4 separate regions of the Homo sapiens genome follow, and all the other regions are linked to region 3. The links come from fine-mapping of genetic effects on gene expression. A gene starts in region 3. Each other region holds a variant in brackets. All regions are shown on one strand. Distances are between the middles of the regions.

Region 1 (5,146 bases), 120 kb before region 3:
CTAGCTTGTGTGGATGTATGTAGGGACAAAATAGAGAGCAGCTGGCAGCAGTTCTCTTTGCATAGGATGAGGGTGGAAAGCACATGGATAGGAATTCATCCTGTCACTCTCCTTGATCATGGTAGAAATGGAAATCTTTAATACTGAAGGGAAGGGGAGAATGAGCCTTGAAGCTGATACCTATACCAATACCCACCTCACCCACCTCCCAGGCCTCAAAAGTGTCTAAAGGTACAGACGTATTCTGGGACTTGTTGTTTTTGCTGGCCTTGCTCCCTCAGCATGTTGGGAGCTGTAGTCCTTGCCAGCCACAGCCTGGCACAGCTGTTTGATGCCAGCTGCTGCCCACCCCCTGAACGAAGAGTGAGGCTTGGCCTACTCTGCCCTGCCCCCCTCCCCTGCAGTCCTGCCCCATGAGTCAGCTTGAAGCCATGGTCTAGAGCCAGACTGGCTGGGTGGCAGGGGAGTGAATATAGAGCGTCTTGTTGACAGGGTGGGAACTGAGAGGGCTCTGGGGTTAATAAGCAGATGCCAGGTATGCTGGGGTCAAGTAGGGCATCATGTCATCCCCTGGCTTCCCCAGGGCAAGGGGTCAAGAGGGCAACTGGGATGACCTGGAAGTGGTGGTGCTAGGGAAAAGGCCCCTCCTGAATCTGTATGGCTTGGGTGGAGGAAAGAAGGGTAGAAATTAGTGCAGGTTGTACCTTCTGACAAGGTTGGTTGCAGGTAGGATAGTGCAGGTTGCGATTGGTGTTCTGCCCTTTCCAGCCATCCCGCCCACCACAGGGAACCAGGATTTTCTTAGGGATCCCAATTCTTAGGAGAATTTGGTGAAATGGGATAGTGGGGTACAATGATGGGAACTTGGTGTAGGAGAGCTTTTCAGTCCCTGGGTACAAATCTCTCCTTTCTGCCTGCTCCCCACCCCCACCTCTGTTCCTGATTTTCCCTTGTACAATTAATCTCTCTGCTTCTCTCATCTGGGAAATTTTTCTCTCCACTCTCAGGACTGCTGCTCAGATGTCTGGGACTTGCATTCTACTTTTTTTGAGCCCTGCTGTGTGCTTACCCCTGTACTTGGGGTTGGATGGAGGGGTGGGACACAGATCTGTCCTCAGGAACTCTATGGTCGGTCTAGAAGATGCCTTACCCACAGGAGTGAGCAGAACTGTTAGTGAGCTTACAGGAAGTAGTAACACTGCCATAGGTGAGGTCTCAGAGAAGGGAGAGATGCTTATGGTCTGGGGTGGACAGAGCAGACTTTCTGGAGGAGATGGCATTTGACCTATCCAAGGAGGAAAAGTCTTGGGTAGGCATTCAAAGGGCACTTCTTGAAGGGGAAAGAGCACCGTGAATGTCAGACAGCAAAAGAGAAGGCTGACCCTGGGGGCAGCTGGCTTTCAACTTGACATTCCCCTCACCCTAGTATGGGCTGGAATAGTTAGTGAAGACCATCTTATGCACCCGTGGTTTGGGGTTTTGGTGTTGGGTGTGTGAGCACTGGGGGAGGGGCGTGGAGAGGTACTCCCTAGTTGCTTCCAGCTGACTGACTGCTGCGGCCTTATCTCTAGTTTGCAGGGCCTTGCGGGAGGGCCCTGGAAAGTGCCTTCTGGCAGTGACCCCTTCCCCTTCCCCTTCTTGTTTTTGGTCGGATTTGTTGCCTCTTGTTAAAGAGACAGGCTGCTGGAGGCAATTTGGAGTTCAGGGCTGAAAGGCCAGCTCTGAGCTGACTTGAAATTTGTACCTCTGAGGACCGCTGATGGGGTATAACTGTGTGGGAGACCTCTGCCCTTAGTGCCCTAGGATGGCACTTGTCCCTTTGGAGATAGACATATAAGAAGGAGTTGTGCAATTTGGTGGCTTTGAGTAAGAAAGCTGAATTCTTCCCCTGGCCGCCTCTCAGCTGACACGGTCTCTTGGATCTTGGGGGTCTCTCATCCCTTCCTCCATGTAGGGCAGGAGTCCTCAAATGGTGGCCCTGACAAGTAGTTATTCTACCTCAACTCACTTGTCACATCCTTA[T/C]TATACTGAGCCAAGACCTGCCTCTTTGACTCCTTAGGTAGCCCAACTCTGCCATCTGTGCCCTGGACCCCAAGCCTACCCTTTCTGTTCCTGAAGAGCCTCTCACATGGGAGAAGGATGTCCTGGAGTGTACTATTAGCCTATAATTGGTGACAGGCCTTACCGCTGGCTCCAGTGATCCTGGCTTACGTCTGTTCTTCTCTCCTCAGGGTCCTGCTGAGCTCAGGAGCTGCACGGAATGGTGGCAGTCACCTTGCCAGTGCAGCAGGCATGGATCAGACTGCAAGCTAGGGGCACGAGGCATCAGTTGGGAAGAGGGGACGCACAGCTAGGCTTGAGGCCTCTTCATCGGGGTAAGTACCAGGGAGAAGAGGGGGAAGTGTGTCCAGTAAGAAGCCTGAGCTAAACCTGTCACCCTCTCAGGAGTTCTGAGAGTGGTCTCTATATTCCATTAGTCCATCCAGGGATTTGTACACATTCATCCTTGGGAACCCATCAAAGTCACCCCTTTAGGCAAGGAGAGGGTCTGAAACTCAGCTGGAAGGAAGAAGACTCATTGATTCCCCTGACCACCTTTTCTTCTCTTCTCTTACACAGATGTCCCCAGGCCCCCCAGCCCAGGCCCAGCATAAAGGCCGTGTTGGGGGGCCCCCCTGACCCAAGGGGGGCTTCATGCGCCACGTGCAGGCGGAGCCGTCTCCATCCTCAGAGCCGGAGGCTGGCCCTTCACAGCCTCCAGTCAGGCAGGGGGCCCTCCAGGGTGGCCTGCTCATGGGCTACAGCCCAGCAGGGGGGGCGACATCCCCCGGGGTCTACCAGGTATCCATCTTTTCCCCTCCGGCTGGTACCTCTGAGCCTCATAGGGCCCTGAAACGACAAGCCCCATCCACTGAGGGTCCCCGGGAGCTGAAGAGAGGCCCTGGGCTGGGGGCCAGAGAGGGACTACCCCCTGAAGAACCATCTACTGTGGGGCTCTTAGGCCCAGAGGGACCGGGGCTGGGACTAGGTGTGGCCAGCCAGCATTTCTCCCACCGTGGCCTCTGTGTTGTGGAACAGAGAAGTAGTGTCACCTCATCTTGGACTTCGGGGGCCTGGAGTCCCCCCTGCCCCCCATCAAATGCTTCCTGCAATACTTTGCACACCAGAGACTGGGCCTCCCCAGATCCAGGGGGACAGGGGTCCCTGGGGGAGTCCCCAGGGCCAGCCCCTCCAGGCCAGCTGCACACACTTGACACTGATTTGCACAGTCTTGCACAAATAGGGGGTAAGAGCCCAGTGGCTGGGGTGGGCAATGGGGGTAGCCTCTGGCCTAGGGAGTCCCCTGGCACTGCCAATGGGCACAGTCCCGAGCACACACCCCCTGGCCCTGGACCCCCAGGCCCCTGCCCCACCAAGCGAAGGCTGCTTCCTGCTGGAGAAGCCCCAGATGTCAGCTCTGAGGAAGAGGGGCCAGCCCCTCGGAGGCGCCGGGGATCCCTGGGCCACCCTACTGCTGCCAACAGTTCTGATGCCAAAGCCACACCCTTCTGGAGCCACCTGCTGCCTGGGCCCAAAGAGCCTGTTTTGGTAAGCCAATAAAGGACCTCATTTACTCTTTTTTTACTTTTTTTTTTTTTTTTTTTTTTTTGAGATGGGATCTCACTCCATCACTGCTGGAGTGCAGTGGCACAATCTCAGCTGACTGCAACCTCCTCCTCCCAGGCTCAAGGGATCCTCCAACCTCAGCCTCCCAAGTATCTGGGACCACAGGCACATGACATTGCACCCAGCTAATTTTTGGTATTTTTGGTAGAAATGGGGTTTCGCCATGTTGCCCAAGCTGGTCTCGAACTCCTGAGCTCAAATCATCGACCCACCTTGGCCTTCTAAAGTGTTGTGATTACAGGCGCTCAAGCCACTGCGCCTGTCCTTCATGTACTCTTAAGTGGATATTTGTGTGGGTAAAGGTGGAGGCCTGGGGGGCAGGGTGTTCCTTTGAGAGTTTGTGATGAGCTTCTGCCCCAAAACATACATGGCCTTCACCCTGTGTCTTTTCCCAATCATTTCTCTCCGTAGGACCCAACAGACTGCGGTCCCATGGGGCGGAGGCTGAAAGGAGCCCGTCGCCTGAAGCTGTAAGTGACCAGCTTTTTCCTCTACCCTGTCCCTGAGAATGGGGGCAGAAGTCTGTACTCTTTCCAGCATCCGAGTAGGGGACCCCAGGGCAGAAGCCCTACATAGTGGCAGAGGGTGGAGTCCAAGGGCATAAGCAGGAATCCCAGAATACCTCAAGCCAACCCCCTGTGTTTCCCTTCCTCTACCAGGAGCCCCCTTCGAAGCCTCCGGAAGGGGCCAGGCCTGCTGAGCCCCCCCAGTGCCTCCCCTGTTCCTACCCCTGCTGTCAGCCGTACCCTGCTGGGCAACTTTGAGGTAGCTCCCGTTGGGGTTTGTGATTGCCGGGGTCCTGGGAGAGGTGGGATGGTGGAATGTGGCTTGGATGGATAAGGAAAAGAATTGGCATCTCTCTCTTCATGTGTTTTCCCTACCCTAATCCCAGGAATCATTGCTGCGAGGACGTTTTGCACCATCTGGCCACATTGAGGGCTTCACAGCAGAAATTGGAGCTAGTGGGTCATACTGCCCCCAGCACGTCACGCTGCCTGTCACTGTCACATTCTTTGATGTTTCTGAGCAAAATGCCCCGGCTCCCTTCCTGGTATGCCTTGACTCCAACCCCAAAGTCAGCTCATCAAGAGGATGAGGATTTGGGGGCGGGGCCAGGGGGCAAGAGGTATTTCTTACTTATTCCTCACCTAGAAGTGAGTCAGGGCCAGGTGAGGAGAACTCTACTGTAGGGCAGGGGCAGGTTCAGGGTGAGAGCTTGTGGAGAGGGACATGTGTTTAGGGCCCAGGGTTTTCCTAGTCCCCACCTTGACTGATGGCTCCCTGGCCTTCCAGGGCATCGTGGATCTGAACCCCTTGGGGAGGAAGGGTTACAGCGTGCCCAAGGTGGGCACCGTCCAAGTGGTGAGTTTGCCCTGAGGGAGTGGGAGTGGGGAGAGAGGAAAGCAGCCCTCAGGCCCTACCAACCTTGACTGTCCTGTCCCTAGACCTTATTTAACCCCAACCAGACTGTGGTAAAGAT
Region 2 (5,146 bases), 530 kb before region 3:
AGTAAAATCTGAATGCAATACATTTAATAGTTAACAAGATGAGGTAATATCTGTTTGAGTGTTGTGTAATCCTAGGCCAGTTATCTTGCCTTTCCCTGCCCCCATTTCCTGTAGAATGGTGATGAAAATACCACCAACATTAAGTGAATTAATACTATCAAGCACTTAAATTGTGCCTGACATACAGTAAATACCCAGTAAGTGTGATACTATTATCAAGTGATAAGATGTTGGTTAATATCCAAAACCCCCACAAAGGAGATTACACAATTCTGACCAAAATAGGACGGTAACCTTGGAGAAACATGAAAAGACTGGATATGGATACCTTTCCCCACTCCTCAATCCCAGCATCTTCCAGAACTCAGTAGTGGTCTGGGCAGCTTTCATAAGCAATAGAGAGATCCAGGGTGCTCAAAATAAAGCAGGCATGAATATAAACATTGGTTACTGAGTCTTCCTGTGCCTGGACCAGGCTACTTTATGGGGAGTTGAAGGCTTAGGGGAAACATATGCCCCCTACTATAGATCTGAACAGTGGTCTATTCAAAACAGTACATGAAAGTGCTCTGTAAACTGACCATTTTATAGAAATATAAAGCACTGTTAAAATGCTAGGAACTCACTCTGCATGGCCACCACCCAAGCAGTTGGGACTACAGGCACGTGCCATCACGCCCAGCTAATTTTTGTATTTCTTTTCTTTTTTTTGGTAGATAGGGTTTCATGTTGCCCAGGCTGGTCTCAAACTCCTGAGCTCAAGCAATTCGCCCACCTAGGCCTCACAAAATGCTGGGGTTACAGGCAGAAGCCACCACACCTGGCCTAAAAAATATGTTTAAAGGTGGCTGAGGCTTGCTGGAGTGCAGTGGTGCGATCTCGGCTCACTGCAACCTCCACCTCCTGGGTTCAAGCAATTCTCCTGCCTCAACCTCCCGAGTAGCTGCGACTGCAGGAGTGTGCCTCCACGCCAGGCTAATTTTTGTATTTTTAGTAGAGACGGGGTTTTGCCGTGTAGGCCAGCTGATCTCGAACTCCTGGCCTCAGGTGATCCGCCTGCCTCGGCCTCCCACAGTGCTGGGATTACAGGCATGAGCCACCGTGCTCGACCAAAAATTCTTTTTAAAGGAAAAAAAAAAATAGGGATGTTGGTTAAAGTTTGTAGAAGAAGTAATTAGACACCCAGTCCCCACCAACAACCCTACACTGTCAGGAGACCACTGGTCTCCTGCTCCTCAGGATTACTGGAGATTTATTTCTGGAGAACTTTGAGTGGAACTGCATTCGACTCTGGAAAACAAGGCATGGAAGAAAGCAGGATGAGAGGCCAATCTGAAAACTGAGGGGTTAGGTGAAAATCTCCAAAGAATTGCTAGACTTCTTCCTTCTATTTCAGGATAATACCAACAGCCAGACTTATTTATCCCACCCTACCCCTGGTAGATTATTTCTCTGCAGAAACTGAACTACCTCAGAGAAAAGAATGTCAAATTCTCTGGGGGTTTCCCCACACAAAAAAAGGCCAGCCTGTTCCACCTGCCCACCAGACAAGTTTGCCAGTTGATATATCTTTCCACTCTCACAGAACCTCCAGTGTTTTTAAATGGCTCATTTTTATATCAGTAGCCAAGGGATTACCAGAGTTTTTTTTTTTTTTTGAGATGGAGTCTCGCTCTGTCCCCCAGGCTGGAGTGCAGTGGTGCGATCTTGGCTTACTGCAAGCTCCACCTCCCGGGTTCACGCCATTCTCCTGCCTCAGCCTCCCGAGTAGCTGGGACTACAGGTGCCCGCCACCACGCCCGGCTAATTTTTTGTATTTTTAGTAGAGACGGGGTTTCACCGTGTTACCCAGGATGGTCTCGATCTCCTGACCTTGTGATCCACCCGTCTCGGCCTCCCAAAGTGCTGGGATTACAGGCGTGAGCCACTGCACCCGGCCTGGGATCACCAGACTTTTGAGGGCAGCCTCCAACAGAAAACAAAGAGTACAACAAAAACATAAAATAGGAGTCTGGGAGAAACACATAATGCAGAACAAAACAAGACAAAACCCAACACATGAGGTCATTTTATCACTTTATTGATGATGCTAATTTTGAACTAGTCCTTCGTTAAGATAGTGTCTGTCAGGTTTCTCCATTGTAAAGTTATCATTTTCTCCTCTAATTAATAAGCAATCTATGGAGAGATTACTTTTAGATTAGATAAATAACCTGTTCCCATCAAACTTTCATCCAATCATTTTAGCATCCATTGATGAGTTTCATCTGAATCAGTTATTTACTATGATGGTTGAAAAATGACAGGTTTGTTTTGTTTTGTGTTTTTGAGGCAGAGTCACACCCTGTTGCCCAGGCTGGAGTGCAGTGGCCCTATCTTGGCTCACTGCAACCTCCGTCTCCCACAGCCTCCTGAGGTGCTGGGATTACAGGCATGTGCCCCATGCCTAGCTAATTTTTTGTATTTTTAGCAGAGACAGGTTTCACCATGTTGGCCAAGCTGGTCTCAAACTCCTGGCCTCAAGTGATCCACCCACCTCAGCCTCCCAAAGTGCTGGGATTACAGGCATGAGCCACTGCGCCTGGCCAAAAAATGACAATTTTCTATTATTCCTTCTACATTGATTAGTTGGCATTCTAACATAATAAAGATTTCCCTTTTCCTTCCTTTCTTAATTTATTGATTTAGGATAAATATGGACCCCTGGATTTTAAAAAGTCAGTGGGTCATAATCCATTACTGATTTTGATGTTCAGACTGCCCCAGATTTGGCACTATTTGGCTTAAATTTTTATTTTT[T/A]TTTTTTAATTTTTTGAGATGGAGTCTCCCTCTGTTGCCCAGGCTGGAATGCAGTGGCCCTATCTTGGCTCACTGCAACCTCCACTTCCTGGACTCAAGCCATCCTTCCACCTCAGCCTCCTGAGTAGCTGGGACTACAGGCATGCACCACCATGCCTGGCTAATTTTTGTATTTTTTGTAGAGACAAGGTTTCACCATGTTGCCCAGGCTGGTCTCAAACTCCTGGGCTCAAGGATCCAGCCACCTCAGCCTCCCAAAGTGACAGGATTATAGGCATGAGCCACCACGCCCAGCCACTATTTGGCTTTTTTTTTCATTGTGAAGACCTTTATTGCTGTGTATGAATTTTTAAAAGCTAACTACTTATTTTGGAATAATTTACAGTTATAAAAAGTTGCAAAGATAGTTCAGAGTTCCTGTACCTCTTTTAACCAGTTTCCCTAATGTTACCATCTTACGTAATCAAGGTACATTTGTTAAAACAAAGCAATTAACATTGAGTACATTACAATTAACTGAACTGGCAGACTTTATTTGAATGTGGCTGCTTTTTTCACTTATGTCCTGTTATTTAGCTTTATAAAAAACATTATAATTTTATAAAACATATAAGCTAATTAAAAACAAAGCCACCCTCACAAAAGATATGCAGATGTATAATGCAGGCTGCAGATAAACAGTTTAGATGTTGTTAATAAGTATAGCTTAGCAGAGAAAAGTTTTGCATTTCCCACAATCAAGACAATGAGTAGTTTTGGGAACTGTCCAAGAAGGTAATTTTTAGCAAAAGTAAGCAGTACTAATCAATAGACAGGACTATATGATTTTAGTATACCTCTATGCCTGGTCTTCCCAATAATCACTCTGCTGACCTTTCACCTCAGTACACCAGGGACAGAGGTGGATTGAAATCATACAAATCTTTGGAAATCAACAGAAGGTACTTTTGTTTGTGCTGACTTACTGGGTATCCTCTCCAACAGCGACAACCTCAGTTAAGGTAATTCCTTTTGGCTAAGTTTTCACCTCAGACTGCATGATTGATTCCAGTAGCAAAGGTCAGAAATGCTCAAACCATAACAAATCAAAATAAATTATTACATACTGTACTCTATTCTCTGATCTAGAATTATCCTGAGGCTATCAATTAATATCATCTTGTGAGCCAATTAATCAAGCAAGCAATCAAGCCACAAGCATCTACTGTATTCTTCCTGTGTATAAGGAGCTATGCTGGATGTTCAGGGGTAATAGCCCAATTTGAGGGGCTCATAATTTTGTTAAAATAATTGCCAATATGCCTCTGGAGGCCAGAACAGCAAAAAGAAAGTTTCAGGGTGTAAGGGTTAGAGCAATGCTTTTAATTTTTCAGCCCCAATACATAAAACAGCTACCCTGGTTGAAGCAGAGGAGGCCTAATGCCCCATGCACTCCAATTCCCTCTCCTTACTGTGGGGGGCCCCAGAGGCACCTCCAGGGAACCCTAGGCAAAGGCAGAACTGACCATAGTTTGTTGGGAGTTAGAGATATGGGGAGTGAAATAATTAACTGACAGAAACATCTCTCTTTTTTCATGCCTCCCAAATCAAATGTTTGTAAACAGATGTTGATTAACTTCACCAATAGCAAACCTAACTTCCCAGAACAGAAATAAACTTTGTACACGAATTTGGAAAGTCAGCTACCCTCCACCCTTGCCATGAGATTAGATGGAGGCTCTGAGTTTCCTATAGGACAAGTACTTCTCTGTGAAATGTGTGAGAGAGGCTCAAAGAATTTGGAGATTTCAGAACTGGTGGTAACAGTGATTCCTGTGGGTGTCTAGGACTGAACTGTAAAGAGAGAATAAACAAGTTCTTAGATGCTGAGAGCACCTGGCTATGGCATCAGGAGTCTGATTCCATAAATGGAATAGCAGCCAATGCCCAGGAGGTCATCTGTCTTTCCTCCAAGTAGAGTGTAGCTGCTGCTAGCTGAGGAGGCCACTGTTTCTAACTCGTATCATGTTATTTTGGACTCCAAGTGAGGCCAGACGGCATGCTGGGAGTGTGTTGAAAGGGCCTAGCCTGAAGGGCTGTCCCAGACACACCAGTTGCTGCCTTATTAGGCTTCCTTAATATAGAGTCCTCTTTCGAAGCACAGAACTTGGTTTGCTTTTGGCTTCTCACATATGTTGTAGAAAAGTTCAGCTAAACGTCCACCCCCAAAAGTCAAAGACAAACATTCCAGAAGAGGCTTGGCTCTGAAGTAGAATGGGCTTAGCAGCCTAAAAGGTAAAAGACCCCAGGCGCCCAAGGCTCCAATTCAGTAAATGGAGACTGCAGCATTGGGAAAGTATACCCAGGA
Region 3 (5,146 bases):
AACCCCAGCTGTTAGGAGACAATTGGGCACTAACCAACCACCATTTCCTTAATACCTCTCCTAGCCTCACCCTACGCCCCCAGTCCACCCTGTGGTTTAGGATCCGGCCCATCATCAGACCCATATTCCTCTGAGTCCCTTTTAAGGTGGGTGCAGGAGCATTTGTTATAAGAGAAACGTACAACCCGAATTCTTCCATTCCAGTCTCCCTCTATCGGTGTGTCTGTGGTGGATATCAGGGGAAGGGGGACTTTCCTGTAGCTAGAGCTCTCTGGGGGATGGCCAGAAGCCATTCTCAGCCCTTCTGAGACTTGGCCAACCCCTGCCAAAGCCAGGAGAACCAGAGTCTTTCTAGCAATGTCCTAGGCTGGCAGCCACAGCTGAGACCTGCCTTTCTGCCTCTGACTGCTTCACAGCAGGGAGGTGTACAGGGTGTCCTTCCAGGAGTGAGGCCTGTAACCGGGTAAGGGGGAGGCGCCCAAGGCCCTAGGTGGGCAGGGACAATGGCCCTCACTGCTGCCCCCACAGGCCCTGCTGCAGGTGGCTGGGTTGACTCATGGTTCTGGGAGTCACCTTTCTCTGACGAAGAAAAGGCTCCACAAAGGCGGGTACTCCCCCATTGCCCCCCACCAGCATGTCACGTCTGTGGGGGAGATGGGGTGGGGGGTGGGGTTGGGAGAGGCAGAGAAGAAAGAGCACCTCGTTGGGGGGGGGGGCAACCGTTTTCGGAAATGGCAGCAAAAGCCGTCTGAGAGGGAGCGGGGGGGGGTGGTCTGCCATTTCTGCCTCAACCCACACCTTCTTTCCCCTGGGACTGGGAAAGAACCCTAGCACACCAAGAGGGTGCCCCTAGAGAACGAGAGCAGCTTCCAGGCAGAGGGCCAGTGGAACGGCTCACCAACCACCCACCTCCTTTTGGTGTCCCTGCATTACCTCCACACCCGGCCAGCTTCCTCCCTGGTACCCACCTGCTAGCTGCTCTAGGCCCATACATCTCTTGCCTCCGCAGACACAGGGCAAGCTCTTTCAGGATCTGCCTCCTTTTTCTCTTTCTGCTTTCCTCCCTCCTTCCCTTCCCCCCTACCCACAGGCCACGTGTTGGAATGACAAAGGAGCCCCATGGCATGGCACTGCCTTTGATGGAGAAGAATGAGGAGGATGTTAAGGTAGAGGCAGGAAGGAAAAATGGGGAGAAAATGGCGAGGGGGACTGTTGAGGTACAGGGAGGGGAGATGGCTGATACAGAAAATGAGGTACTGATGGAGGGGGATGAGTGACAGATGGAAATGGCTGAGGTGGAAAATGGGTTAATGATGGGTTGAAAGGGAGGAATGTGGAGAGTTGAAATAATGGAGGAAATGTCTGTGGAAAATGGATACCTGAAGGGTTTGAGAAAAGGAATGATAAGGGGTGCAATTCATTCAAATATGTGGGTGAGGCCGGAGGGGGGTTCCTGTATGTCACAGAGGGGATGAGGATGAGTTGGAGGAAGCAGGAAGGCAATGGAGGGGATGGCCGCGTGGAGGGTTTGACTGGGTATGGGTGTGAGTGCCCTTCTCCGGAGGGACTTACCGAAACTTTACAAACCCATTCAGCGTCCACGCTCGAAGTTTTAAGGGCTCCAGCTGAATTTTAAACATCAAGCTGGCTAAGAAGTCTTCTCCCCAGGAGTGTGGGAAGCTCCGGAAAGCTCCTCGGGCCTGCAGTGGGGGTGCTGCTGGGGGTGGGCAGGAGAGCACTGTGCGCTTAAACATGCCCAGCCAAGCCCCTCACCTCTGATCGCTCCACCGGAGCCGGCCTGAAGTGCTGCAGCTCTGGAAGCCACCTCCTTGGACTCTCAGAGGCGCGTGCCCAGCAAGGCCTGTCTGGCGCAGCAGGTGCCGGACCTGATCCCCAAATGTGGAGAGTGAAGGGAGAAGACCCGCGGCCACCTGCTCTCAGGTGCAGCAGTGTCTGGCTGGCTGTGAGCGGCTGTATGGCAGCGTGTCAGTGAGGCTGGGAGTGCAAGCGTGTGTTTGTGAGTGGCAGCGTGTATACCTGTGACAGGTGTGATTGTGAGGGCCCGAGAGGCAGTGAGCTCCTGTCGCCTCTCACTGGGGAGGACCCGACCCCAATCCCCAAGAACCTACTCAATGAAGTCACTGACGGGAGTCTCCTCCCTCGCAGATGGGCGGGGCAGAGCGGAGCTCGGCCGGGACAAAAGGCGCGGCGAGGAGAGGAGGGGAGGGGGCTCGGGCGGGGGAGGGTGGTCGGTGATGTCACCCGCGCTGGCTGGCTGGTCTGCTCACAGATGCCTCCGCCCCACAGAACCCAATCTGGTCCGGTCCGACTCGACCCTCCCCTCCCCTCCCCTCCCCGACTCAGACGCTGGCTGCCCCCTGTGACAGCCAAGCCCTGGTCTAGGACTCCGAGCACCCTGCAGACCCCGGGGCCCCGCATCCCCAAGGCAGCAGAGCCTACGGGCCCTCAGTGTCCCAACCCCCCAACACCAGGAGCCCTGGCTTCACGACGCCCCGCTCCCGGGACCCCCGAGTCCTGGCTTGGCGCCCTCACCGGTGAGGAGCTGCGGGCGCCGCCGTGGTCCGTGAGACAGCCGCTGCCCCCTCCCCCGGCTCCGGCTCCGCCGCCTCCACCCGGGACAGGAGTCGCCTGCCCGCCGGCCGCCGATAGCGGGACCGGGAGCCCGCCCCCACGGCTCCGCCTCCGCGCCGCCCATTGAACCGTCTTCCTGTCACTCAGCTCAGCCTCCACTGTGATTGGGCAGTTTTCAACAAGCGGCTTGGTGATAGCCGCCCATCCTCCGCCCCTGTCACCCGGCCACACGCGCACACATTCCAGGCAGTGATTGGTGTGGATCTGATTGGCGCCCTCTGGGATCACTCAACCACGCCTCTTTGCCATCTTGTCGTGCCATTGGTGAAAAAGACAGAGGGCGGCAACCTCGCTCGCCCTTTGATTTTATTGGTTCGTGCCTGAGACTCAGACCCGAGCCCGGGGGCAAACTATATTAGTCCAATCTCCGGGTTGAGAAGGTGGGACGTACTGGCCACTGCTCGAATCCCAGGAGAACCTTCTGGAACCCTTGCGACGTCAAAGGCAGCCTTAAAGGAAAACTGTACCCACCAGTTGGCCGTGCGGCCGTGCATTCTTTCCTTTCTTCATTGGGGGGCAAGAGGGAGAGAACAGTGCACTCTGGGAGGTGTAGTCCCTGGACCGGGGCCAAAAGGTCAGCACTTCTTACTCGCCTTTCAGCCAACGGTGTAACCACCTCAAGCTGACCTCATTTAGCTTTACCTTATCCTGACCCCGCGGTGGCCTGATGTGACCTAACGGAATCTCTAACAGACCCCACGGATGCCGGGTTTCAGAGCCCCCCGGACCTCTCCCCCGAGGGAAACGGATGGCTCTGCCCAGGCCGGTGCCTCCAGGAATCTCCCCCGCCCACCCTCTGTACAGCCCCTCATCCTCGCGCCCCTCTTCAGCGACCCCGCGGTCTCCATTTCAGTCCCTCTTCTAATCAGTCTCTCATCCTGCTTCCCCCTGGAGTGCCTGTGTTTTAGCCCTTTCCTTCTTGGCCCTAGATGATCTCCTGTCTTCCTTCCCGCAGTGATCCCTTTTGTCTTATTCTTGGTTCTTTCTTTACACCCCGATCTCCTATCCTAGCTCTCCCCTTTCATCTTTCATCTCACTCCCCAAGATCCCCTTCCTTAACACCCTCAGAATCTCTAGTCTCCCCCACCCCCCATTAAGTCATTAGATCTCAGCCCCAGTGTCCCCGATGCAGGGAGCAGGCGGGGCTGCGGAGGCGGTCGCCAGCGGAAGCCGCCACTCCAGCAGACACGGTGCCTGGCGCCCACGTCACTGTCTCCCAGGCCCATCTGTGCTCGAGGGAGCGGGGGTGGGGAGGGAGTAATTTGGGGGTGAAGTGGGGGAGGGGAGTGCTGGGGGGTTGATGATGATAGAAGGGTCAGGCCGGAAGCTCCCCTTTACTTCTTTCTTTCCTATTTTCCAGAGACAGAGTTTGGACACCCATGAGGTCTTGCTAGAAACTGCAGCTTGAGTACCTGGGCCAAGAGCAGAGCAAGGCGGGGGGGGGGTGCCAGGGTCCTGGAGTCATGTCTGTAGATTCTTCACTACCTACCTTCATGCCAGGAGTCACTATGGGGCTCCCAAGGGTAAAGGGGCATGAGGTGTGAAGGAAGAAAGAGACTTGGGGTGAAAGGAGGATGGAAAGGAAGTGGGGTTGGGGGCCAGGAGGGGAGCAGAGATGGGTGATGAATGTGGGGAAATGAGCATGAGGAATTTGAGGAAATGGGGTTGAGGGGGGGAGGTAGGGAGAGGGGGTGGTGAGAGGATGGTGAGATGGGGTGAGGGGGATGAGGAGGGGAGGGGCATGGGGCAGATGAGCCATAGGGTGGGAGTAAGGAGGGCAGAGGAAAGGAGGGCTGGGGAGGGGAGGGAAGGCAGGGTGGGGGATAAGGAAAGAAGGGCTGGGGAGGGGCAGGAAGGCAGGGTGAGGGATGAGGAAAGAAGGGGTGAGTAATGAAAGGATGAGGCACAGAGATGGGGTGAGGAGGAGTGAGGAAGGGGGAGGGGAGGGAGGAGGGATGGACATCTCTGTGTGACACAGAGATGGGTAAGGTGGGGTGAGGGGCCCTGCACCGCTGCTGGCTCCTCAGATCTGGGGGCTCTCACTCTTCCACCTCCACACCTGTGGGGCCCAGGCTGTGGGTGGCTCTACTTCTTCCTATTCCAGTTCTGTCTCTTTTGCCTCCCCCAGCCTTGCCTGTGCCAACACGGAGGCAGAGAGTTTAGTCACCAGCCTTTACCTGGCCCCTGCTAATGCTAAAGTGTAGGCTCGGACCTTTGAGGGTGCAGAACTGTGCCTTCAGGTGTTGGTGGCACAGACTCCACTGTTTGCCTAGTCCTCGGTTCCCGCCCTCAGTCCCATTGTCCTGGGTGTCACGTGTGTGTAGTGCTCAGTGTGGCATGGACTGTGACAGTGTGGTCTGGAGTCTATGCACCTTGTGAGCTTACACGCCACACTCATGCCTCATCTCCTTTGTAAATGGGGATTGGTGCCTCAGGGGGTTGTTGAGAGGGTTAATTAAGGTAACACAGGTAGTGCACTTAGTTCTGAGCTGGG
Region 4 (5,146 bases), 57 kb before region 3:
TCGTTCTGTTGCTCAGGCTAAGAGTGTAGTGGCTATTTACGGGTGCTATATCGCTACTGATCTGTGCAGGAATTTTATCTGCTGTGTTTCCCACCTGGGCCAGTTCACCCCTTCTTAGGCACTGGTGGTCCCCCACTTCTGGAAGGTCACCATTATTGATGCCAAACTTAGCATCATTCGGTTCCCAATCGTCATGGCACACTACATCCTGGGCTCAAGGGATTCTCCTGCCTCAGCCTCCCAAGTAGCTGGGCTTATAAGTATGTACCACCACCCCTAGCCTTTTACTCAAACTTTTATGACACTTGTTGAAGAGATCGGGGCAGTTGATCTCCAGAGAATTGTAGCCATGTGCAGGATGGATTAGAAGGAATAGAGCAACCAATTTAGTGAGAAATAATGACTAAGACAATAGTGATGGTGGAAATGGAGAGGGGAAGATGGATTTGAAATACATTTCATAGGTATAATTGACAAGTTTTGTTTTGTTTTGTTTTGTTTTTTTGAGATGGAGTCTTGCTCTATTGCCCAGGCTGGAGTGCAGTGGCATGATCTCAGCTCACTGCAACCTCCGCCTCCTGGTTCAAACAATTCTTCTGCCTCAGCCTCCCAAGTAGCTGGGATTACAGGTGCACACCACCACACCCGGCTAATTTTTGTGTTTTTAGTAGAGATGGGGTACCACCCAGGCTGGTATCGATCTCCTGACCTCAAATGATCCTCCTACCTCGGCCTGCCAAAGTGCTGGGATTACACGCATGAGCCACTGAGCCTGGCTGACAAGATTTGGTGATGGCTTAGATCAGGGAGGAAGGAAGAGTCAAAGCTTAAGTATTTAGGTGGATGTCATGCATTTTGATAGGAATGGGCGTGTTGGAGGAAAAAGTTAAAGGGAAAATACGTTTTTGGACAAGTCAAATATGAGATAATGTCTGGTATGCTGTTGAATATGGGGACCTGAAGCCTAGAGATGCTTAGAAATGACTCATGTTTTTACAATACACCATATTTAATGGAATGGGCTCAAGACATTCTATTTTTAAAAAATGGTATTGGTAAATTGGACATGATTTTGGGGAAGGTTAGATTATCACCTCATACCATAAAAATCGGTAATCTAAAACATAAATATGCAAAATTATCAAAGTGCCAGGAGAAAATGTTTTAGAAGTCATGAAGTAAAGTGTTGGTAGATTTAACTACATAAAAAAATTTTTCTTTGATACAATAGAAGTCACCATAAAATTAGCCAATAAGATACAAATTGGAAGAAAATATTTGGAACATACATAATAGTTTGGGTCACTATCTCTGTAGGCAGGATCATGGCCCTCAAGATGCCCACGTCGTAATCCTTGGAACCTATGTATATATTATTTCACATGGAAAAAGGGGCATTAAGGTTCCAGGTGGAATTAAGGTTGCTAATCAACTGACTTCATTTATTTATTTAGAGACAGGGTCTTGCTCTGTCGTCAAGGCTGGAGTGCAGTGACATGATCTTGGCAACCTCCGCCTCCTGGGTTCAAGCGATTCTCCTGCCTCAACCTCCGGAGTAGCTGGGATTACAGGCACACATACCATGCCAGGCTAATTTTTGTATTTTTAGTAGAGATGGGGTTTTGCCATATTGGCCAGACTGGTCTTGAACTCCTGGCCGCAAACGATCCAGCTGCCCTGGCCTCCTGAAATGCTGGGACTGTTAAGGCATGAGCCACTGCTGCGCCTGGCTATCAACTGACTTTAAATTGGAAGGGTGTCCTGGATTATTCAGCTTTGTCCAGTGTAATCATAAGGGTCCTTAAAAGTGGAAGAGGTAGGGTCGGGCGCAGTGGTTCATGTCTGTAATCCCAGCACTTTTTGGGAGGCCGAGGCGGGTGGATCACTTGAGGTCAGGAGTTTGAGACCAGCCTGACCAACATGGAGAAACTCCATCTCTATTAAAAATACAAAATTAGCCAGGCGTGGTGGCGCATGCCTGTAATCCAAGCTACTCAGGAGGCTGAGGCAGGAGAATCACTTGAACACAGGAGGCAGAGGTTGCAGTGAGCCGAGATTGTGCCATTGCACTCCAGCGTGGGTGATAAGAGTGAAACTCTGTCTCAAAAAAAAAAAAAAAAAAAATGGCTCACGCCTGTAATCCCAGCACTTTGGGAGGCCAAGGCGGGCGGATCACGAGGTTAGGAGTTCGAGACCATCCTGGCTAACATGGTGAAACCCTGTCTCTACTAAAAATACAAAAAAATTAGCCCGGCGTAGGTGGTGCACACCTGTAGTCCCAGCTACTCGGGAGGCTGAGGCAGGAGAACGGCATAAAACCTGGGAGGCGGAGCTTGCAGTGAGCCGAGTTCGTGCCACTGCACTCCAGCCTGGGAGACAGAGCGAGACTCCATCTCAAAAAAAAAAAAAAAAAAAAAAGTGGAAGAGGGAGGCAGAAGAGGTCAGAGTGATACAATGTGAGAAGAACTTGACTTGCCTTTGCTAGCTTTAAAGATAGAAGAAGGGGGTCAGTAACCAAGGAATGTGGGCAGCCTCTAGAAACTGGGAAAGGCAAGGAGTGAATCCTACCCAGAGCCTAGAGAAAAGGATGTAGGCCTGCCAACCCCTTGATTTTAGCCCTGTGAGACATGTGTCAGACTTTTTTTGCGGGGAGGAGACAGGGTCTCTTTTGCCCAGGCTGGCATGTAGTGGTGCAGTGGCTCACTGTAGCCTTGACCTCTCTGGTTCAGGTGATCCTCCCACCTCACCTTGCCCAGTAGCTGGGACTATAGGCATGCACCACCATGCCCAGCTAATTTTTGTGGTTTTTTTGTTTTTTTTTTTTT[G/TG]TAGAGACAGGGTTTTGTCATGTTGCCCAGGCTGGTCTCAAACTTCTGGGCTCATGCTATCAGCCCATCTCAGCCTCCCAAAGTGTTGGGATTACAGATGTGAGCCACTGCACCCAGGCTCCGTGTCAGACTTCTGACAAAATAAATTTGTTTTGTGGTAATTTGTTACAGCAGCAGTAGAAAACTGTAATACATTGACTAATACAATGTCCAACAAATAGTGCATTAGAAAATGGGTAGAGGATATGACCCGGTGATTATAGAAATCCAGACGGTTACTAGACGTATTAAAAGACACTTGTTTTCATGGCCTTGGAGATGGATGAGCTGACCCAGGGAGAGAAAAGAGCAGAGGGCTGAGAAGAAATGGTCAGAAAGATACGTGGAGAACTTACAGGTCAAGTGGATGAAGAAGAGAACAATACCCAGGACAAAGCACAGTTGCCTAGACTCAGATGACCTGTGCTCGTGTGAATGGATGTAGTTTTTTGTTCACATGCTGTGAAGTCGTTCCCTCTCAAGGGCGGCTTTGGGCTATGCTGACCTGGCCCTGTAGCCTCACCCTATAGAGTAGGGATGTGTGGACTCCAGATGTGATCATCTGTGAAGATCCACAAAAGAGTTAAGCCTGCAGAATCCTGAGTGCTCTACTGGGACTTGAAACTGAGGGGCTATGGCTGTAGCAGAATTGGGAATTGACATTTTCAGTACCCTAGATTCCAAAGAAGACATGAATGGGATTTATCTAATTCAGCTAGTTTATTAGAATTTCCATTTCTTGTCTCCACATCCCCACCTTCCCCCTGGTTTGGCTTCAGGTCTTGGCATACCAAGTGCTAGTATTACCAGCCTTTTCTCTACTGACTAGATTTGGTGGGTAGGGGTCGATGGTTATCCAGGCATTTGGCTAACACCTTTTGCAAACCCCTGGTAAGGGAAGCCTTGAGGGTAGGGAAGGAGAGATACTTCTCCATGTGGGCCCAAGGACAGTGCTTACAGTGGCGAGGGGTCAGGATGTCACTTGCTCTTCGCCCTGCCTCTGGCTGATCCTGGGGACCCGAAGCTTTGGGGAGAAGCAGCTGGGGAAGAGCAGTGTGTTGAGAGCTCTGGCCCCTGTGTTGAGACCTTTGGGGAAATGTGCTTACAGGGGCCTCTACTAGGCTTCTGGCCTGGGCAGGGTGGTTCTTCCCTGTGACTGTGGATAACCCCAACCTTGCAGTCCCTCTTCTATGGTCTCCTGCTTTGGGTTTCCTAGGGTGCTCTCTCTTTTTGGCTGAGGATGAGGCTGAAGCCTTGTCCTTTCTCTTGCCTGAGACCAGAACCTTAGAGTTTGAGGGTTCTCCTGGGCCTGGAGATAGATAGTCCACACCAGCCTCCATGTGTACACATGGCCCTTGGGATGGGACCTGGCTCACCATCTTCCCCTTCATTTTCTCCCCTCTCTGAGACCCTTGTTCCGCCCTGCCAGACTCCTGTGGCTGAAGCTGGGAAGAGGATTGGAAGTGATGACAGTGGGAGGACTGGACAGGCTGAGGTACTGTGCGCTGAACTTCTTGAGGATGACAACTTGAAGAGTGGGGGCATGGATTGGGGGGATAAATCTGCTGTGGTGGGCAGGAAGGGAGTCCCCAGAAGTCTGGAATTGTGGAGCTCAGAATAGGGGAGCTGCAAAATGATTGACTTGGGCCAGGGGCTCTGGAGGCAGGGCTCTGCCGCAGTTTCTTCAGCCTGAGTTTCAGCTCTCTACTCCACTGCCAGGCATGGATCCCAGGATGGGTGAGCAACTCTGGGACAGTCCATCTCTGGGAGAGTGGGGCCTCTGCCTTAACCCCTGGGCACGTTACTCCCTTGGGTAGACCAGGATGAGTGCGTTCAATCTTCACAGCTTCAGCTAGGGTGGGAGGCTGGGGTACTGGGTGTAGGGGATCCACTGCCAGAGGGCTGGGGCCTTGGGGAACTTCTCTTTGTTGCACATTTCTCCACACAAGTTCAAGGTCAATGTGTGGCTCTGGTAGAGGAGTAGAGAGTGAGCTGGGGGCTGGGAGCTCAGTGGCCCAGTGGTTCTTTCTTTGCTCCACTGCCTCCCCGTCAGGCTTATAGTTGCTTTGGTCTGCGATAGGCTCACTTACGTGGGACTTTGAAACAGAGTTTGAGGATGGGCTGGAGCCCCTACCTGGGAACACAGGAACACAGTTTTCTTTTTGCTCCATTTCCCCTACAATAGACTGAGAATCAGACAAGACTCCCAGAGGGCTGGCTCCATGCAGGTCTTGGGGTAAGTTACAAGCTGGGTGCTTAGAGGCCCAGGAGTTTTTTGTCTT

The links.
Region 1: its variant is fine-mapped to the expression of DNAJB5 in whole blood (TOPMed, PIP 0.97).
Region 2: its variant is fine-mapped to the expression of DNAJB5 in whole blood (TOPMed, PIP 0.96).
Region 4: its variant is fine-mapped to the expression of DNAJB5 in whole blood (INTERVAL, PIP above 0.99).

The regions. Positions count from the first base shown.
Region 1 is chr9:35,105,823-35,110,968 of GRCh38, reverse strand. ATOSB (atos homolog B) reads left to right here. Exons shown (of 9, transcript NM_025182.4): 2 at 2,232-2,375; 3 at 2,620-3,588; 4 at 4,078-4,136; 5 at 4,326-4,431; 6 at 4,559-4,717; 7 at 4,960-5,028; 8 at 5,112-5,146. The coding sequence starts at 2,695. Among named protein-coding and RNA genes, the nearest start is that of STOML2, 5.3 kb to the right of the region's middle. RefSeq lists a cis regulatory region at 1,561-1,578 and an enhancer at 1,498-1,642. The variant T/C (reference allele first, on the strand shown) is at 2,023.
Region 2 is chr9:35,521,483-35,526,628 of GRCh38, reverse strand. The region is part of intron 1 of RUSC2 (RUN and SH3 domain containing 2); the gene reads right to left. Among named protein-coding and RNA genes, the nearest start is that of RUSC2, 34 kb to the right of the region's middle. The variant T/A (reference allele first, on the strand shown) is at 2,800.
Region 3 is chr9:34,987,239-34,992,384 of GRCh38, reverse strand. It overlaps DNAJB5 (DnaJ heat shock protein family (Hsp40) member B5), which reads right to left and starts at 2,640. Exons shown (of 5, transcript NM_001349723.3): 1 at 2,554-2,640; 2 at 1,573-1,886. The coding sequence starts at 1,754. It overlaps DNAJB5-DT (DNAJB5 divergent transcript), which reads left to right and starts at 3,006. Exons shown (of 2, transcript NR_109756.1): 1 at 3,006-3,226. RefSeq lists enhancers at 596-1,525, 1,526-2,455, 3,010-3,219 and silencers at 2,737-2,885, 2,400-2,899.
Region 4 is chr9:35,044,406-35,049,551 of GRCh38, reverse strand. SPATA31G1 (SPATA31 subfamily G member 1) reads right to left here. Exons shown (of 2, transcript NM_203299.4): 2 at 3,566-5,146. The coding sequence ends at 3,683. It also overlaps the pseudogene RN7SL338P. Among named protein-coding and RNA genes, the nearest start is that of SPATA31G1, 4.7 kb to the right of the region's middle. The variant G/TG (reference allele first, on the strand shown) is at 2,826.